4 separate regions of the Homo sapiens genome follow, and regions 2, 3 and 4 are each linked to region 1. The links come from fine-mapping of genetic effects on gene expression. A gene starts in region 1. Each other region holds a variant in brackets. All regions are shown on one strand. Distances are between the middles of the regions. Region 1 holds the start of CD300LB (CD300 molecule like family member b). Region 2 holds the start of LINC02074 (long intergenic non-protein coding RNA 2074). Region 3 has its middle 30 kb from the start of CD300LB. Region 4 overlaps LOC105371888 (a long non-coding RNA gene).

What was found. PIP is the estimated chance that this variant, and not a neighbour inherited with it, causes the effect.
Region 2: its variant is fine-mapped to the expression of CD300LB in whole blood (INTERVAL, PIP 0.98).
Region 3: its variant is fine-mapped to the expression of CD300LB in whole blood (TOPMed, PIP above 0.99).
Region 4: its variant is fine-mapped to the expression of CD300LB in whole blood (INTERVAL, PIP above 0.99).

Annotation. Positions count from the first base shown.
Region 1 is chr17:74,529,410-74,534,558 of GRCh38, reverse strand. It overlaps CD300LB (CD300 molecule like family member b), which reads left to right and starts at 3,084. Exons shown (of 4, transcript NM_174892.4): 1 at 3,084-3,248. The coding sequence starts at 3,209. It overlaps LOC107985074 (a long non-coding RNA gene), which reads right to left. Exons shown (of 3, transcript XR_007065902.1): 2 at 1,918-2,012.
Region 2 is chr17:74,109,547-74,114,695 of GRCh38, reverse strand. LINC02074 (long intergenic non-protein coding RNA 2074) reads left to right here and starts at 1,797. Exons shown (of 5, transcript NR_184085.1): 1 at 1,797-2,050. The variant C/T (reference allele first, on the strand shown) is at 2,261.
Region 3 is chr17:74,499,145-74,504,293 of GRCh38, reverse strand. No RefSeq gene overlaps it. Among named protein-coding and RNA genes, the nearest start is that of CD300LB, 30 kb to the left of the region's middle. The variant T/C (reference allele first, on the strand shown) is at 2,370.
Region 4 is chr17:73,933,865-73,939,013 of GRCh38, reverse strand. All of the region lies in intron 5 of LOC105371888 (a long non-coding RNA gene), which reads left to right. Among named protein-coding and RNA genes, the nearest start is that of LINC00469, 110 kb to the right of the region's middle. The variant C/T (reference allele first, on the strand shown) is at 2,745.

The sequences.
Region 1 (5,149 bases):
TGGATCCTGGCACCCATTTAAATGTGCTGGCCATGACTGCAGGCGTGACCCTCCAAGCCATGGCACCAGAGAAACTAGACTTCTGGGCCCACTTACACTTCCACAAGCACCTTAGTCTTTTATTTCTTTTTGACCTCCTGTGTGACCTGTGTGCTTCCCTAAAAAACAAAACAAAAAAACAACGATTTTAAGAAAAACTACGGGCCAGGTGTGGTGACTTATGTCTGTAATTCTAGCACTTTGGGAGGGCAAGGTGGGTGGATCACCTGAGGTCAGGAGTTCAAGACCAGCCTGGCCAACATGGTGAAACCCTGTCTCCACTAAAAATACAAAAATTAGCCACACATGGTAGCGGGCACCTGTAATTCCAGCAACTTGGGAGGATGAGGCAGGAGAATCACTTGAACCCGGGAGGTGGAGGTTGCAGTGAGCTGAGATCATACCACTGCAATCCAGCCTGGGTGGCAAGAGCAAGACTCCATCTCAAAAAAAAAAAAAAAAAAAAAAAAAAGGAAAGAAAAGAAAAGAAAAAAAAAGAAAAACTACATAATTGGGCAAAGCCTCTTTAAGGGAGGGGGCGTGCTAGATTGAACTTTATATCTTGCTATTATTATGGCCTGTGCTAAAGCATTTACCCTTAGAAAAATGGTTCTGGTTAACTTCTGGACTTAAAAATCCCCTTACTAATTAAGTACCATCTTAATCGGAGACAGAATAGGTGCCTTAAAGGAATGTAGGAACCGAATGGCCATTTTCCTGCCAATGGGACAATATTGAGACTAAAATTTGGCTATGGAAGACTTCTTAACTCCTAACTGCTAAAGGCAGAACTTTCCCATTTCAAGAAGAGGCCTAGAGCCTGATTTCTTTTTCTTTTTTCTTTTCTTGTTCTTTCTTTCTCTCTCTCTCTCTCTTTCCTTTTCTTTTCTTTTCTTTTTTTTGAGACCGAGTCTTGCTCTGTTGCCCAGGCTGGAGTGCAGTGGCGCGATCTCGGCTCACTGCAAGCTCTGCCTGCCGGGTTCACGCCATTCTCCTGCCTCAGCCTCCCGAGTAGCTGGGACTACAGGCGCCCGCCACCACGCCTGGCTAATTTTTTTTTGTATTTTTAGTAGAGACGGGGTTTCACTGTGTTAGCCAGGATGGTCTCGATCTCCCGACCTCATGATCTGCCCGCCTCGGCCTCCCAAAGTGCTGGGATTACAGGCATGAGCCACCGCGCCTGGCCGAGCCTGATTTCTAATCATGCAAAAAGAAGCTGCGGTTTGCCATGAAAAAATATGCTTTATGTAGAGGATTTCTATTTCTACTAGGTGGCACTGTTGGCTTAGAAATACTATGTGCTCACTAGAGACGTGGTAGTGAGTAACCTCACGGTGGGAGAAAGGGGAGAACTCTGTTCCTAGAAGATTGCAAGGGCATCTTCCTGATTTTGCCTAACAGGATTACTTTCCTAGGCTGTAAAACTCGCTACACATTTCACACAAAGAAAGTGTAAGAGACCGCAGATAGAGAAGGAAGGAGAGTTTTGTGACAAGATAGTTGAGGATTCTTTGCCAACACCCAGAATGGGCCGCCAGAGGCTGGGTCCAGTCCAGGGGCCTTTGAATCATGCCAGGGTGTGCTCTGGCCAGAAATTGTTAGTTGCCTTAGAACTTTTCCCAGCCTTGCACAATGGCGAGGTCTTCCCGTGAAAAGAAGCTGATTTAAAACATGGCCAACATTCCCAATGACCCAGGGGTGTTGGGGGGTTCTCCGTGTTCTCAGCAGCAAGCCTCACATTCGAGTCTTCAGTATGGCAGCCAACACTAAGTGTATGTACCCGGCTGACGGATGCCCATTGACTTATTTTATTTTAAAATAGAGGCTAAGAGTGCCTCGGAATGATAGAAGAGATTTTAAGCTCACTCCCATACTTACCACTCCGATGAGTGTCGTACCTTGGATTCCCGGCCAATGCAACAAAATGGTATGGCTCTGATGACTGGAGGAACACTAGGGTCCTTGGTCTCCCACTGGTTTGAATAAAACAACATGGGCACACGTGGAGTGGTTTTAAGGAGTGGAGAATTTAATAGACAAGAAAGAAGGAAGGAAGAGGCTCCCCCTGTTCTGAGACTGAGGGAGGCGGGCTCCAAGCTGAAAGAGGGAACCTCGAGTACGGTGGAAAACAGCCAGTTATATGAGGAGGCTGGAGGAGGCGGTACCTGATTTGCATAGGGCCCAGGGGATTGGTTTGACCAGGTATGTCATTCAAGTAGCCCACGAAAAAACTAGCCTTCCTACCCTAGCCTTTTAATATGCAAATACAGGCGCCATGATGTTCTACACACATGGGTGTATGTAGGGGCGGCCATGTTGCCAGGAACGTGGGGAAAAGAAGAAGAGGCGGGAGTCTCCATGTTTGGGTGGACGCAGTTTCTAATGGCCTGTATTTGCATATCAAAGCTTGCCTGCCCAGCTCTAAGAGCCAGGGCTTTTCTTCTAGACAAGAAACATTTATGGAGCTGCTTTAAAAGAAAAAAAAATCTTCCCAAGCACCCCTTTTCCTATCTACCTAAAATAATTTCTTAATAACTCCTATAACAACAACAAACATTATGAGCCCAGTTAATAGATACAATAACTGAGGCACAGAGATGTTGATTGCATTGTCCACAGTCACGCAGCTTGTAGGTGGTGCTCGTGGGGTTAGAGCCAGGTCTGTCTGACCCAACAGTCTGCATGTTTATGCACTTGGCTATAACACCTGAACAAATGCATGTTCAGGTGTGCCCAGCATGACCCATCCGACATCTGAGTTGGGTGTTCACTGTGGTATAGAACAGCTCTGAAATTGACTCCCAGAGTGTTATACCCCTTGGACCCAAGGCCTGCTAGGCCAGACGCCCCCCACCCCACCCCTTCTGCAGACGTATCTCCCCCTACCCTAAAGACCCTGCACAGTCCCCTCCCTCCTCTTTTTTACATAGTGACGATGCTTAAGCCCTGTGGCGCAGCCCTGCCAAAAAATGACACCTCTTTCGTTTAATAATTAAAAGCAGGAACTACCCACTCTATAAAAGGAAGTGAATGAGTAAGAAAGTCAAAGGCGGTCTAGATGTGCAGAAGGTGCAAGCCAGAGCTCAGGCAGAACTTCCAGAGTGCATCTGGGATCTGCATTTGCCACTGGTTGCAGATCAGGCGGACGAGGAGCCGGGAAGGCAGAGCCATGTGGCTGCCCCCTGCTCTGCTCCTTCTCAGCCTCTCAGGTGAGTGGGGCTGGGGCCTTGGGCGCTTGGTATGACAGGGGCAGGGCAGGAGGCAGAGGGCATTTGTCCTTCCACATCCAGGGAAATGAGAGGTGGCTTTGTGAAGTCATTCGACAAAGGTGCACTGGGGACTGACATCGTGTGCTTCGGGGCCTGAGGACATCAAGAAAAAAGAGGAGGAGAACTGGCCATTAAAGAAGACTCCAGGCTTGAGGCCATGGCTCACACCTATAATCCTAACACTTTGGGAGGCCAAGGTGGGAGGATTGCTTGAGTCCAGGCGTTTAAGACCAGTTTGGGCAACATGGTGAGACCTCGTCTCTATATAAAATGAACAAAAATTAGCTGGGCGTGGTGACCGTGCCTGTAGTCCCAGCTACTTGGGAGGCTGAAGCTGGAGGATCCTTTGAGCTCAGGTATTCAATTCTGCAGAGTTATGATCGCACCACAGCACTCCAGCCTGGGTGATACAGTGGGACCTTGTCTCAAAAAAAAAATAAAGTAAAAAGACTCCAGATGGCTTAGTGGGTGAGACATACACATAAACAATGAGCAATTGCAGGACACAATAAGGCATTGGTGGAGGCGTGTGCGGAGGATGAAGCAGTTCTCTCTGGTGACTAGAGAAAGACTCACGAAGCTGTGCACTTGATGTGCCTTGTAGAAGGAAGGTCAGTCTCTGGAGCAGAGCTGAGAGGAGAACACTCTAGAGAGTTGGGTGTGTGTGTGTGTGTGTGTGTGTGTGTGTGTGTGTGTGTGTTGGGGGACCTGGGCAGAGAGATGGAGGCTTAGAAAGAATGGTGGATTCATGCAGAGGGAGCTGTCAGTGTGCAGGATGTCTTGGAGGTGGCGAGTTGGATATGAGGTTGGAAACACAAAAGACAAGATTATGAAGGCCATCCACGCCAGGCTCAGGAGCTGAGACTTTCAAAGAAAAAACTTCTCAAGAACCCAGGTGGAAAGTGGGAAGGGCTAGATGATCTTCTCCATGGCAAACCTTGGTGGACACCTAGAGGGCATTAGGGGACAATCTAGAATTTTACGCAGGGTGTGCAATGTGTGTGGGCCACACAGTTTTCTGCTGGTGCCTAGGGACTGACCATCTGGCACAGATAGAGCAGTCCACGGAGGGACAACAGGAAAGAGCATGGCTGGGGAGTTCTGAGACCCGACTCCAGTCCTGGCTGGACTTCCACCCTTCAGCCCGTTCAACGGGGCTCTGCTCCAAGCTGACGGCTGCCCTGTCATTTCCATCTCTATCGTTCCTCATACCAACTCTTGACAACATATAGAAGCCTGATTAATAGTTCCAGCCATCATATTCTGTGGTTAGAGAAACCCCCAAATATTTTTTTAAACGGGACTAATTACATCGTGAGCCATTTACAGTTTGAATGACTGAAGCTGGGATTGATGACACTTTGTTCAATGCAGCAGCATCTCTTTTCTGCTGTTAGTGATTGCTGACAAATCCAATTTATGTTTTTGGGTATTTTGTTTTTGTTTTTGTTTTTTGTTTTTGAGACGGAGTTTCACTCTGTCACCCAGGTTGGAGTGCAGTGGTGCAACCTTGGCTCACTGCAACCTCCGCCTCCCAGGTTCGAGTGATTCTTCTGCCTCAGTCTCCCAAGAAGCTGGGATTAAGGTGCCTGCCACCATGCCTGGCTAATTTTTGTAATTTTAGTAGAGACAGGATTTCACCATGTTGGTGAGGTTGGTCTTGAACTCCTGACCTCAGGTGATCCACCCACCTTGGCCTCCCAAAGTGCGGGAATACAGGCATGAGCCACCGTGCCCGGCCCCGAAAAGACTTTTAGATGCTCAGGGCAAGTGCAGCTGATGAGGAGGAGGAGACAGTCTCAGTACCCAACTCAGGCAGCAGTATGGAGAGGAAAGCTGAG
Region 2 (5,149 bases), 420 kb after region 1:
AACTCCCTATTATTGTCTTTGGGGGCAAATTGAGCCTGGGGCAGAGGAGGGAGAGAGAAAGACAGCTCAACTTGGGGTGGCAGGTCACAGATTATGTCCTGATTGTAAATGTCTGACCCCTGGCCCACCAGCTCTCCGTGTAACCCTCTTCCCCAAACAACCATCTCCTGATTTTCCTGTATCCCCGTCCCGTCTCCACCTCCCGCCTGCCCCTGCCCCCACCCCCTCCCCAGTTCAGATCTGCCTGGAGGCCTGGATGGCGACCATATGTTTAAGATGTTCCACTGCTGCTGTTGAGAGCCAGAAGGGCTGCCTGGGAGAAGGCACTCAGTCAAAGCTGTGTTTATATACACAAGGGCCGGCGTCTTTTTATTATGCATAATTATACGCTTCTTAATGTACAGGCATTTCGAGCCATTTTTCCTTCCTTGGTGAAGTCGCAGCAGAGGCGGGTGTGAGTCCGGGTGCTTGGGGGCCGGGAGATGGCTGCTCTTGTCTCCTTAACTCGGGGGTGCTGAGCCCTGAGCATGGCGGGTCCCTCGACCGATCAGCGTGCGAGGTCGCTCTGACCGAGAGAACGAATTCTTCCAAGGGGATCGGGGAGCCGGGACGCGGTGGTACATCGTGGAAATGTTGTAGATCATGAGGTGAAGCCCTCTCTCTCCCTCTTTGTCTTTGAGCCAAAGCCTCAGATACGCACTCCTGCCCTCATCCTGAAAGAAAATGTTAGATCCTTCCTACAAAGCATTGTTTTACATCTATACCCAGCGATTCTCCTCTTCTTTCTAAATTTCACAAACTTAGACTCTGAAAACCTGACATTGAGAGGTGACAGCATGCTGGCAGCCCTCACAGCCCTCGCTCGCTCTTGGTGCCTCCTCGGCCTCGGCGCCCACTGTGGCCGCGCTTGAGGAGCCCTTCAGCCCGCTGCTGCACTGTGGGAGCCCCTTCCTGGGATGGTGGAGGCTGGAGCCGGCTCCCTCAGGCTGCGGGGAGGTGTGGAGCAAGAGGCACGGGGGCTAACCGGGGCTGCGCACAGCGCTTGCTGGTAGAGTTCCCCGGGCGTGGGTTTGGCGGGTCCCGCACTCGGAGCGGCCGGCCGACAGTGAGGGGCTTAGCACCCGGGCCAGCAGCTGCGGAGGGTGCGTCGGGTCCTCCAGCAGTGCTGGCCCACCGGCGCTGCGCTCGATTTCTCGCAGGGCCTTAACTGCCTCCCCGCGGGGCAGGGCTCGGTACCTGCAGCCTGCCATGCCTGAGCCTCGCCCCTGCCCTCGCCCCCGCCCCCGCCCCCGCCGTGGGCTACTGCGCGGTCCGAGCCTCCCTGACAAGCGCCGCGCCCTGCTCCGCTGCGCCCAGTCCCATCTACCGCCCAAGGGCTGAGGAGTGCGGGCGAACGGCGCCGGGCGGGCAGGCGGCTCCACTGGGTGAAGCCAACTGGGCTCCTGAATCTGGTGGGGACTTGGAGAATCTTTATGTCTAGCTCAGGGATTGTGAATGCACCAATCGGCACTCTGTATCTAGCTCAAGGTTTGTAAATGCACCAATCAGCACTCTGTGTCTAGCTCAGGGTTTGTAAATACACCAATCGACACTGTGTATCTAGCTAATCTAGTGGGGATGTGGAGAACTTTTGTGTCTAGCTCAGGGATTGTAAACGCACCAATCAGCACCCTGTCAAAACGGACCAATCAGCTCTCTGTAAAACAGACCAATGGGCTCTCTGTAAAATGGACCAATCAGCAGGATGTGGGTGGGGCCAGATAAGAGAATAAAAGCAGGCTGCCGGAGCTAGCGGTAGCAACCCGTTTGGTTATCTTTCTGTGCTGTGGAAGGTTTGTTCTTTCACTCTGCACTATTTTGCAATAAATATTGCTATTGCTCACTTTGGGTTTATATTGCCTTTATGAGCTGTAACACTCACCATGAAGGTCTGCAGCTTTACTCTTGAAGCTTAGCGAGACCACTAACCCACCAGAAGGAAGAAACTCCGGACACGCCGCCTTTAAGAACTGTAATACTCAGTGCGAGGGTTCACGGCTTCATTCTTGAGGTTAGTAAGACCAAGAATCCACAAATTCCAGACACAACATGGTAATATATGGGGTCACTATCCTTATAGTGAGGGTTAAGCTTTAAATCATCACAATGAAAGCTTTTTGTTTCTCTAGCGTAGCAGCAAGGGAGAATAAGGCCTCTGGAGTCCAGGACTTGGGTTCAAATCCAAGCTCCACCGTAGCTGTGTGACCTGGGTTTATCATTT[C/T]GCCTTTTTGAATTTCGGTTTTCATTGAAATAATGGGAATAACATTAGTTCCTATATCATGGAAAGTACCTAGCACGGTCCTTGGTGCCTTGTAAATGCTTGGAAAATTATCCTTTCTCCTGTGGTGATGGTTCTAATAGACTGAGTTTTATGAGAGCAAGAGTGGGTGTCTCCCATCCACTGCTTTCTTTTTGATACCCTGAACTCTGCTGATGGCAGCAAACATTTGCTGAATCGTTGTTGAACAAGGAATGAATGAACACCGGGTTTGGAATCAGGGTCTTTTTTTGAGACAAGAGTCTCACTCTGTCTCCCAGGCTGGAGTGTGGGGGCTCCATCTCGGCTCACTGCAAGCTCCACCTCGGAGTCACGCCGTTCTCCTGCCTCAGCCTCCCAAGTAGCTGGGGCTACAGGCGCCCACCACCATGCCTGGCTGATTTTTTTGTATTTTTAGTAGAGACCGGGTTTCACCATGTTAGCTAGGATGGTCTCAATTTCCTGACCTCGTGATCTGCCTGCCTTGGCCTCCCAGAGTGCTGGAATTACAGGTGTGAGCCACCGCACCCGGCCAGGGTCTGTGTTTCATTTACCGACTGTGGGGCCAGGCCGTACAAGACCTCTGAGCTCCACAGATGCAAAGTGAAGAAGTTATGGATTGGCCCCATAGGCATGTGACGATGAGATTAACTGAGAGGCGCTGAGATAAAGCACGTGAAGTGTTTAGCTTGGTACTCGGTGTCAGGTCATGTCCAATTTTATTAGGAGCTTATATTCCATTCTGTAGCAGCTTGCTATTTTTATTTTTTTTTACTTTTTTTTTGAGACAGTCTTGCTCTGTCGCCCAGGCTGGAGTTCAGTGGCGCCATGTTGGCTCACTGCAAGCTCCGCTTGTCGGGTTCGCGCCATTCTTCTGCCTCCGAGTAGCCGCTTGGCTAATTTTTCTATTTTTGTTTAGTAGAGATGGGGTTTCACTGTGTTAGCCAGTATGGTCTCGAGAGATCTCCTGACCTCGTGATCCACCCGCCTCAGCCTCCCAAAGTGCTGAGATTACAGCGTGAGCCACTGTGCCCGGCCGCAGCTTGCTATTTGAAAGCATTTTTATTTCCATCACCCCATGTGATCTTCAAAACAACCTGTGGGCTGGGCAGTCTTCATCCCACAAATAAGAGGGTTTCAAGCCGGCCAGTGGAATCCCAGCGCTTTGGGAGGCGAAGCAGGGGGATCGCTTGAACCCAGGTGTTTGAGATCAGCCTGGGCAACATAACAAGATCCTTTAACTATAAAATTAAAAAAACCAGTTTCAGAAGGGTGAAATGACTTGCCAGCCACAGTGTCCAAGCCCCATGGCACTACCCGCCCCCTACCTATCCCGCCTTCCTGTTTGTCACTTTTGTTCCAATGCAACTTATTTGGTCCTTTGAGAGTGTCCCAGACTTTTAAATGTAGGAGATGCTGGAGCTCTGTGGTGTACATAAATCTTTCTTTGAAGCCTGCTTCCACCAGGAAGGCCCCCTAGGATGAAAAGACTTAACAGTCCAAAATGTTATCAGCCCACTTTGGAGAGCCCTTTTCTGGGCCCCTACCCTAGTGGGGAAGCACACACAGACTGCCAGGCTGTCATTCATACGGAGTTCACCCTGGGAGGAGCAGACAGATTACTGTGTGTGGGGCAGGGCACTTCCCACACACTTGCGTGGGGTTTCGAGCGGGGACGGTGGCCAGGGGCCCTGTGTATACACATTTTTTTTGTTTGAGACAGGGTCTTGCTCTGTCTCCCAGGCTGGAATGCGGTGGCGTGATCACGGCTCACTGCACCCTTGATCTCAACAAGCAATCCTTTCATCTCAGCCCCTCAAGTAGCTGGGACCACAGGCACGTGCCACCAGGCGTGGCTCATTTTTTTTTTTATTTTTGTAGAGACAGGGATATCCCTATGTTGTCCAGGCTGATTTTTGAAATGTGCTCAAGCGATTCTCCCACCTTGGCCTCCCAAAGTGTTGGGATTACAGGCATGAGCCGCCGTGCCCGGCCAACGCATATGCTCTGTGCTGACAGATTTCTTCTGAGCTAACAGATGTTGTCCTTTGACCCATATTGACCCTGTTGGAACACCCTAAATATTATTTAGCTGTCTCTCACCAAAACATTACAAGTTAGGCAGTTAGAGCTGTTTTTCAGATTTACCTGGCTGTTATGTCTTTTTTTTTTTTTCTTTTTTTGAGATGGAGTCTTGCTCTGTCACCCAGGCTGGAGTGCAGTGGCGTGATCTTGGCTCACAGCAACTTCTGCCTCCCGGGTTCAAGTGATTCTCCTGCCTCAGCCTCCGGAGCAGCTGGGATTACAGACACCCACCACCACGCCCAGCTAATTTTTGTATTTTTAGTAGAGGCAGGGTTTCACCGTGTTGGCCAGGCTGGTCTCGAACTCCTGACCTCAGGTGATCTACCTGCCTCGGCCTCCCAAAGTGCTGGGATTACAGGTGTGAGCCATCACACCTGGCCCATCCTGAATTTTCATCTGCTAAACGTAGCAACCCTAAGGACTGGTGACTTCCCAGCGTTGGGGCAGCTGCAGCTCTTCCCAGCTCCACTCTGAAGAGCTGGGGACCAGCCTGCCTTCCGGTCTCACCAGGAGCAAGGGAGATGCCAAGCTCCTTGGATGCTTCTCTGAGGAGACTGCGAATCCACAATAAAGGAAGCGTCCTTGGTAATGGGGAGATTTACCATCTGAAGGGCACCCCTCCCACTCGTAGGGGTGATTAGTTCCTAAGCACTTTTCTTGCAAGTGCTCTGTTTGTTCAGGGACACAGGAGGAGGCCCCCATCAATTCTTTCTCGTTCCCACCGCCCCCTGTCCCCCAGAGATTGAGAGTCAGGAGGTGATCTTCCCT
Region 3 (5,149 bases), 30 kb after region 1:
ATGAGAACTGTACGGAGTGAGTTGAGCATAGTTTGTGATTTTGAGGGCCTCTAAAATATTAAAGCAGTGGCAGCCGCTGCACGCAGACATGAGGGCTAGGCTAAAACAGTAAGGTCAAGTTGTTTGGACAGAAAGACTACAGGGCGTGGTTCCAGCTCTTGTGTAAGAATTCCGACCACACAGTCCTGTACTTCAGCTGTGTGTAATGAAAAGGGTTGGGATGAGTTTTTTAAGGAATGGAAAGAGGAGTGGGGAAAGGATTTAGGATCTATGGGGTCAGCTACATTTATCTAGAACAGAATAATGGGTTGTGGAGGGAGGTATTGAGGATAGGAGAGTATATGGGTTTGGCATCACGGTGTGGATAGGCAAGACAATTTGGTTGATAAGGTGCAGATCCTGAACTAACCTGTAAGACTTTTCCGGGTTTTGGACAGGTAAAATGGAGGAATTGCAAGGAGAGTTTATAGGCTTTAGAAGGCCATGCTGTAGCAGGCCAGTGATAACAGGCTTTAATCCTTTTAAAGTGTGCTGTGGGATGGGATACTGGTGTTGAGCGGGGTAAGGGTGATTAGGTTTTAATGGAATGGTAAGGGGTGCATGATCGGTCACCAAGGAGGGAGTAGAGGTGTCCTATACTTGTGGATTAAGGTAGGGAGACACAAGGGGATGATGCGAAGGAGGATTTAAACTGGGGAAAAGGGCAGCAATGAGGTGTGGCTATAGCCCAGGAATAGTCAGGGAAGCAGACAATTTAGTTAAAATGCCTCACCTAATAAGGGAACTGGGCAGGTGGGGATAACTAAAAAGGAGTGCATAAAAGAATGTTGTCCAAGTTGGCACCAGAGTTGGGGAGCTTTAAGAGGTTTAGAAGCCTGGTCGTCAATAGCCACAACAGTTATGGAGGCAAGGGAAACAGGCCCTCGAAAAGAAGGTAATGTGGAGTGGGTAGCCTCCGTATTGATTAAGAAGGGGATGGGCTTACCCTCCAATGTAAGAGTTACCCAAAGCGTCTGTGATGGTCCAGAATGCTCCCGAGGCACCTCATAAATATATACACCTACTATGACCCAGAAAAACTAAAAATAAAAAAAGCTAAAAAAATCAAGGGTCTCACTAACAGGCTCATTTTAACTAAAAGGGGGCAGCAAGGTGGACTTTTGAGCTAAGCAGTGTTGTGGTCAAATACTGAGTGAGTCACTTAACCTTCTCCCTTCGCTTCTGATCCAGCACAGTGGCGCCTAGGACTATGCATGGGACACGAGGGGTTACTCAATCAGTGATGTAGAGACAGCTGGCTAAGTCTTATACAAACTCAAGTTCTGTTCATACCGCACTCTGTAAGCCAAAATAGTTTCAAATGGATCAAAGATTTAAATACGAAGAAACTACACAAGTTTTAGAATAAACTGAAATCTTTCTAAAGTCTTAGACTATTTAAAAGTTTTAGAATAAACTGAAAACTGCAAGTTTTAGAATAAACTGAAAATATAAAATGAAATTTACAAAAGTTTTAGAATAATGGGTGAATTTATTAGACTCTTGAAATGGAGCATCCTAAGGAAAACTCAAACTTTATAAAGCAAATGATTGAGAAATCTGACCTCAGAAAAAAGATGAAACATCACTGGGTGAAAACACCTTTGAAAGTTTTTTAAAAAATGACAAGCTATGAAGGAAATGTTGCAGGCAATTTGACAGAGAGCTTATTTTCTTAATTTACAAAGCACTCGGAGGAACTCAGTAAGATAGATTAAAAGCTCAATGGCAAAATGGGCAAATGGATAGTTCACAGGAAAAAAACTAAAATGGCAAATAAAGGAATGCAAATTCTGAAAATTATAAGATATTATTTTCTTCTATCAGATTGAAAAGAAAATAGAGTGTGAAAATATCCAATACTGGCGAGAGTGTAGGGAAAGGGACATCGTTGAGTGTTCTTGATGGGAAGGTAAGTGGGTGTAAGGTACATGGATGTGCTTTGGTCAAGAATAGGTTAGCCAGGTGCGGTGGCTCACGCCTGCAATCCTAACACTTTGGGAGGCTGAGGCGGGTGGATCACCAGAGGTCAGGTGTTTGAGACCAGCCTGGCCAACATGGTGAAACCCCATCTCTACTATAAATACAAAAAAAAAAAAAAAATAGCTGGGTGTGGTGGCTCGGGAGGCTGAGGCAGGAGAATCGCTTGAACCTGGGAGGCGGAGGTTACAGTAAGCCGAGATTGCACCATTGCACTCCAGCCTGGGCGACAGAGCGAAACTCCGTCTCAAAAAACAAAAACAAAAACAAAAACAAAACAGGCAGAGGCAAACATCAGGGCCAGCGTGACTCAGGGAGTCTGGCGCGCAGGCGCATAACTCCACTTGTTA[T/C]GTAATCTGTTTGTGTAAGTGGCTCAGAGCCACTATTGTCTGTAAAAGGTATAACTGCCCTGCTGACGCTGTACATGTGGTTCGGCATGGCTTGTGCCCAGAGGCAGAGAGTAAAACTGCTGACCCCATAAGGGAGAGCCAGGCTTGTAGGCCAGGGAATGCAGCTGTAAGCCTGGGAATGGCAAGAGCCGCAAAGCTGGAGCAGGCAGCCGAGATAAAGGTGAATTGTATGAGAAAGCTTCTGATGAAACTATCACAAGGACAGAAAACCAAACACCGAATGTTCTCACTCATAGGTAGGAATCGAACAATGAGAACACTTGGACACAGGGTGGGGAACATCACACACCGGGGCCTGTCAAGGGGTGGGGGGCTGGGGGAGGGATAGCATTAGGAGAAATACCTAGTGTAAATGACGAGCTGATGGGTGCAGCAAACCAACATGGCACATATATACCTATGTAACAAACCTGCACATTGTACACATGTACCCTAGAACTTAAAGTATATAAAAAAAACTGCTGATGAAAAAGCTGCTGAATAAAACCATATTTTACCTGCCTACAGCCCCCTAAATATTCCTTCCGCTATTCGCCACCCATCCACCCACTCCCCTCAGACCTCAACATGGGCTGGAACCTGACGCTTGGCATGACAGTGGGCAAGAGCTTTTTGAAGGAAAATTTGTCAAGATCTATTAAAAAAAAGTCAATTCATGGACCTTTTGACTAATGCTCCACTATTGGAAATTTCTCCTAAAGATATACTCAGATAGGCCAGGCGTGGTGGCTCACGCCTGTAATCCCAGCACTTTGGGAGGCTGAAGTGGGCAGATCACGAGGTCAGGAGATCGAGACCAGCCTGGCCAACACGGTGAAACCCCATCTCTACTAAAAATACAAAAATTAGCTGGGTGTGGTGGTGCACGCCTGTAGTCCCAGCTACTTGGGAGGCTGAGGCAGAAGAATCGCTTGAACCCGGGAGACAGAGGTTGCAGTGAGCCAAGATCACACCACTGCACTCCAGCCTGGGCAACAGAGCAAGACTCTGTCTCAAAAAAAAAAAAAAAAAAAAAAAAAAAAGATATACTCAGATATATACCAAGATACAGGTACAAAAATACAAAAACATGGTCTGGGATGACATAACAATGTGTGCATCTGTGCATGTGTATACACACGCAGTCATACATGGGGCCTTGTATGACACACAGATACATCGGCATGCATTGTGCACCTACAGCTCCAGTCCCTCCCCCAGCGCCTGACTCATACAGCCAATAGGGGGCTTGTCATCTTTATTTGAGCATCTGTACGCCCAACAGAGTCCCTGTTTCCTCTCCCCAATTCCACCCCAAAACTGCTGCTCTCTTAGTCTTTCCATTTCCGTAAAGGGACCCACCTTTACTGCCCTCCCAATTGCTCAAGTGAAAACCGTAGAAGTCACCTGCAATTTTTATTCCTTTCTTTTCACTCCCTCCCACATCCAATCCTTCAGCCTGTTGGGTTGGCTCTACGGCCAGAATGCATTCTGAGCTTGTCCACCTTCTCCAATGGCCACATCCACCACCCCATTCCAAGGTGCCATTGTGTGACTCCCTTGCTTGAAATTTTTCAGAGTTTCCACTTAGGACAAAATCCACACATTTGCGTATTAACCCTTCCCTGATCTGACCACTGCCTGCCTCTGCCTTTCTGCGTCTGCCTCCCACCAAGCTCCCCACATTGTCTACTCTGTACTCATCTGGCCGGCACCCTAAGCCTGGGACACACTAGCCTTGTTCCCCCTTAGAGCCTTTGCCTGAGCTGTTTCCTCTGCCAGGAATGCTCTCACTCTATATTATTGTGTGGCTGGCTCCTTCTCAAGTCTCAGCTCAAATGTCAGGAAGTCCCTCCATGACCTCCCTATGCAAGCAGCCCTTCCTGCCTCTCATCACTCTCAGCTGTACACAATTCAGATCTTCACACAGCAGTTCTGTGATGATCTGAACGAAGCTTGCTTTTGTTTTGTTTGTTCTGTCTACTGCCCACTAAGATACAAGGACCAGACAGAAGGGGCCTCATTTATCTTCTTCACTGCTATGTCTCTGCTGTATAGCTCCATGGTATATAGTAGGTATTCAATAAAAGTCATCAAGTAAATGAGTAAATAACGGAATGAATTAAAACTGTGGAATCACATATAAAAGAATGAGGTAGATTTGTGTGTACTTGTATAACAAGGTCTCTAGGACATATGCAAAAGTGAGGTATGAAGAATTATGAGCCCCTCCCCCCACTTTTTTTGGAGATGGAGTCTTGCTGTGTCGCCCATGCTGGAGTGCAGTGGCGCGATCTTGACTCGCTGCAACCTCTGCCTCCTGAGCTCAAGCGATTCTCCTTCCTCAGCCTCCCAAGTAGCTGGGATTACAGGTGTGTGTCACCACACTTGGCTAATTTTGTATTTTTAGTAGAGACAGGGTTTCACCAAGTTGGCCAGGCTGGTCTTGAACTCCTGACCTCAGGTGATCCGCCTGCCTCGGCCTCCCAAAGTGCTGGGATTACAAATGTGAACCACTGCGCCTGGATTAGCCCTTTTGAAAATAATTTTGAAATAATAATAAGTTTTCTGAAAGCTGTGTAAGAAATGGCTAACAGTAGTCACTTTTGTGGAATGGTACTAGGGGTAGGGTAGGAGGAAGGAGACTTTTTTGTTAATTTTATAACTTCCTGTACTGTTTTAATTTTCTGTCCATTGCACATGGGTTTAAAATTTTTTTTTTTTTTTGTCCTGAGATGGAG
Region 4 (5,149 bases), 600 kb after region 1:
TTCTCTTTCACTCTGGTTTACACCAGAGTTTGTTTGTTGCGTGGCCCAACCCTCCCATTTCCTAACTTGCACAGGTACATTTCTGGCCCTCCAAAGTGGAAACCTGCTTGTTCTTCAATGAACAAAGGGGCTCTTGCTGAATGTGTGTGTGGCCCTGGAGTTGAAATCCATCTCCTTGACCTTGGAGGCTGGTTTTTCCCAACTCAGGGAAAATTGCTAAGAGTCCAGCAGCAGGCTCAGTGTCTTTTTGGAGTTTTCAGAGCTAGGATGCTCCTCTCTCTCAGGCTCTTTAAGAACCTTCCAGCATCCACCTCCAAGGGGGAGGTTTGGCATTTCCATATCCTTGGCTGGCAAATTGTAAATTTGGATATGAGCAGAAAATATAGTGACATCAAGGTTATGTGGTCTGCAGCTGACAAGATGGATAGCCCTCAGCTAGGCAGCATTTCCCAGCTTCTTCTTGGTTTGCACTCTCTGCACCTCTCTTTCTTTTAACCTTTTTTTTTTAAGGAAAACATTTTTAGAGACTTTAATAACTGTGGAAGGATGCTGTAAGGCGGGCAGGGAAATTGATCATTTTTATTCGGTTGTGCGTGATAAAATGTAAGTTTGAGCCATGAATCTTCTTACCTTGAGGGAAAAGAACGGTGTGCCTGGCTGTTAATATGACTCCCTTTTTGGAGATTTTAATGAAGGAATCCCGCTCCCCACCGCAGATTAATTCATAGCTGTGGACAGGGCGGGGCTGAGGCGGGAATACACTCTTTCCTCCAATCTAGCAACTGCTGGTTCCGTCTCTCTCCACATCTGCGTGTATTCGCTGTCTATTATTTTTAATCAATGTCTCACCAAACACATATAAAGCTCCCACTGTGTGCAAGACACCATGCCTAGCACCAAGGAGGGGAGATGCTGAGGAGTATCTCAGAGTCCTGTGTAAGTTGCCCAGAAGAGGGCTCCTCTCCAGGCCCTGCCTGTGAGCACCCCAGATACCTCCCCACTTGTCTTGGCCACAGCTATATCCCCCTACTGGAACATGGCAAGAGATGAGGCACACGGCTTGTGTTGGCCACAGGACTCCATTTTGGGTACCCTAAAAGGAAAGGCAGGGCTGCAGTCTCAGTCAGCTTGGGCTTCCATAACAGAATGCCATAGACGTTTATTTCTTACAGTTCTAGAAGCTGGAAGTCCAAGATCAAGGTGCCAGCTGATGTGGGTCCTGGTGAGGCCTCTCTTCCTGGCTTGCAGATGGCCACCTTCTTGCTGTGTCCTCCCGTGGCAAGGAGGGAGGGAGAGAGACTGACAGCGCATGCATGCTCTCTAGTCTTTTCCTTCCTCTTCTTATAAGGCCATTCATTCCATCATAGGGGCCTTACCCTGTGACCTCATCTAACCCTAATCACTTCCCAAAGTCCCCACATCTAAATACCATCCCACTGGAGTGTTAGGGCTTCAATATATGCATTTTGAGGGGACACACATATTCAGTCCGTAACAGACCTGTGTTGTGGAGCTCATTTCCTCTTTCTTCTTCTTAGGGGGTTGAGTATGGTGGAGTTGGAAAGTGTGATGTATGGTGTGGGGAGAGGACAGAAAGCGACCTCTGCTGCCAGGCGGAAAAATGCCCACCCAACTACTCCTGCCACATCAAGTCTGTGGCCAGAGTGTAGGAGGGTTCAGGCCACTGCTACCTCCCGCATCCTTGCCCTAGCATCCCTTCCTCAGGTCCTAATCCTAAACCTCCATCAGCTCCCTGCTTTCTGGATCCCTCCCGCAGCCAGGCCCCTCTCTTGCTGTGGCTCACCAGTCATCTGGACATTGCTGGCAATAAGCTTCCTTAAACATCCATGGTGCACACGCTGCTCTGCAAACAAAGACAGGGCATCCAATTATTCCAAAAACAACCTGTTTCTGTTTGCTTATCTGACTCGGACTGTTTGCCCCTGACATCGCTATTGATCAATTTGAACTTTTCCCCTTCAAGTCCAACATGATTCATAATTTGTGGTTGGGAAAAGCCACCTGGGCAGTGGGCCCCCTGGGACCAGGCCCTGTGCACCCATAATCTCATTTAATGCTCTATGTGGTTGGTATCATGATTTCTATCTGAAAGACAAAGAAAACAGGGGCTGGGGGAAGGTGAGCATTTATCCAAATCTCCCAGCTTATAGGTGATGGTTATCAGAATTTGAACCCAGGTCTGTCTGTTCCAAAGACTGGCCCCTCTCTAATACATTGAGATGCCTCCTGTGTAGGCACCCAGTTTTGATGGTCACCCCAATTCAGAATTGCAATCAGACAACAAACACCAGAGAATACAAAAGGCTGATTGTGACTCTGCGTAGGGAACAAGTGTACCAAGCTGTGCCGACAGTTTGATGGTGGGTCAGTGTGACATCTTGGAAAAAATAGCAGCTGATTATATTTTTCAAATCGACATGTGTTTTTAAAGACTTTTGAATCAGATGTGAGTCAGGAGCATTAGGGCAAAAGTGTAACACTTTTTTTTTTTTTTTTTTTTTGAGACGGAGTTTCGCTCTGTCGCCCAGGCTGGAGTGCAGTGGCGTGATCTCGACTCACTGCAAGCTCCACCTCCCGGGTTCACGCCATTCTCCTGCCTCAGCCTCCCGTGTAGCTGGGACTACAGGCGCACGCCACCATGCCCGGCTAATTTTTGTATTTTTTTTTTTTAGTAGAGACGGGGTTTCACCATGTTAGCCAGGATGGTCTCGATCTCCTGACCT[C/T]GTGATCCGCCCGTCTCGGCCTCCCAAAGTGCTGGGATTACAGGCGTGAGCCACCGCGCCCGGCCAGTGTCACACATTTATATTTGGTGAATGTGGGAAATTTCTCCCATGAAAACAAAGTGAGCAGTCACTCTTGAGGTCTGGGTGCATAAATTATAGTACATTTATACCATGCGATATTATGCCCTATTGAAAACAATTAGAGCAATATTGGAGGACAGAGAGAGAGTTCCCCAAGGTATTGTTGAGTGAGGAAAACAAGATGCAAGAAACTGAATATCATATATTTCTGCAAAACAAATAATGACAAAAGGCTGGCTATACATGTATAAGTGCACACATGTGTATAAGTGAATGCATGTGGGTGTGTATAAAAAGTTACATACATGTATGTACATACATGTCTACCACATGTAGTGTGTGTATGTATATATTTATACAGGATAATATGATCATGAAGAAAAATGTGGAAGGATCCCTACTAGGCTATTAGCATGAATTTCTAGTGGTTATGGGTGGAGGACAGAGGAGAGGTGTCAAGGAAAGTCAAACTAACAGGAAAAAAAACTAAGAGTCTGCACAAACACACACACACACATACACATGAATCATGTAATGACAACATTTATGCATTTAAATAAAGGTATAGGCATTCATGTAAATACATTCAAAGAAAAGTTGTAAGTTATTTTCCTACAGCAACAGAGCACTTACCCCAGAGATCTGCATGAAGGCATGACAGTGAACAGGCCTCTGCAGATCCAGACGGTACAGTCTAGAGGCTGGGGACAGCTACTAGGAAGCCACATCACTGGCTTCCCACTCCCTGCAATGGGAAGGGTTGGTTTATTCCTTGGCTTTACAGCCGGCACAAGGAAGAGGGGTACCTGTGTGATTTGGGGGTCTTCTCCAGCTGCTGCCTTAGAGTCCCCCACCTGGTTCAGGGGTAAGTGAAACAGTAGAAGGGGAAAATAAACTCTTTTCTACTTCTACTAACATTAGGGTAACCGTAACACTGATCATTTAAACAGGGACCACTTTGAGAGTGAAGAGCAGAACTATGAATAATTCAGGTGCAAACCACGACTGTCCCTAGCACACCTGGCTGTAGGGTCACCCTAGCTATAGCTCCTAAATGGGGGGTCTACATTCTAAATTTCACCATCTTCTCCATGCAAATGTGAGTATTAATTGATCCAGAACCCTGTAATTGTTGTAACTGGAGCCCAACAGGACTGAAATTACTCTTAATTATCATCCCATCCCAGGAGGGAGGGTCCTTTTCCCTCAAAGTTACAGAGACACGTGGTGAAACCAAGGGGGACGGGTGTGTGGCTTCCATGGGGCCCTGCTTAACCACAAATGTCAATGCTCTGGGCTGAGCAGGGCTGGGATTCCTGCACATGCTCTGTGTGGTTGGCCTGATCTATAAGAGACTAAATAATGACCAGGCTTGCTGCTAGAGCACTTTGTAGCTGATGTGTCTGGCATCACCAGCTTGGATTACTAAATGGGTACATGCTGATTAATCTACAAATTAGGTTGATGAACCCCCACCCTAGCTGTCTCAAGGATTTGTATATCTCCCCGGTGCCCTTCTTCCCAAGCATCCCTTTGTTAATTCAAGGGATCTACACAGAGACTGGTATTTGGACCAGGGCAGAGAGAAAGATAGAGGGGGAAAGATTATTTTTTCCCAAACTATTAATATCTACTAATCTGAAATGCCATAATTGAGGGCTAGAGGCAGCATTTTTCTTGGCTAGCAGGGGGAAAGCTATTTGAAATGGCCTTGAGAATATGACTAACATGAAGGAAGCAGACTGCAGAGATAAAGATGAAAGAAAGACCCTGATGATACTGTTTGAGCCACTTGCACCCTCTTCCTTGTGCTGGATCTTCAGGAGCACCTGAAGTCTGCTCCCCAAAGTTGGCAGAAAGAATAATGGCCCCCAAAGACATCCACATCCTCACCTCTAGAATCTGTGAATATGCTACCTTACATGACAAAAGGGGTACTGCATATATGATTAAGAATTTTGAGATGGGGAGATTACCCCAGATTATATGGGTTGGCTCAGTGTTATCACAAGGGGAAGCAGAACAGTTAGAGTCAGGGAGGGAGATGTGGCCATGGAAATAAAGGTCAAAGTTATGCCATTGCTGGAAGTGGGCTGTGAGCCAAGGAATTTCAGGCATTCTCAGAACCCAAAAGGCAAGGAATGAATTCTTCCCTACATCTTTTAGAAGGAATGCAGCCTTGCCACCATCTTGGTTTTAGCCACATAAACCCATTTCTGGATTTCTGGCCTCCAGAGCTGCAAAATAACACTTTATGTTGTTTTAATCCACTCACTTTGTGGTAATTTGTTACAACAGCAATTAGAAAACCAATACTCTCAGCT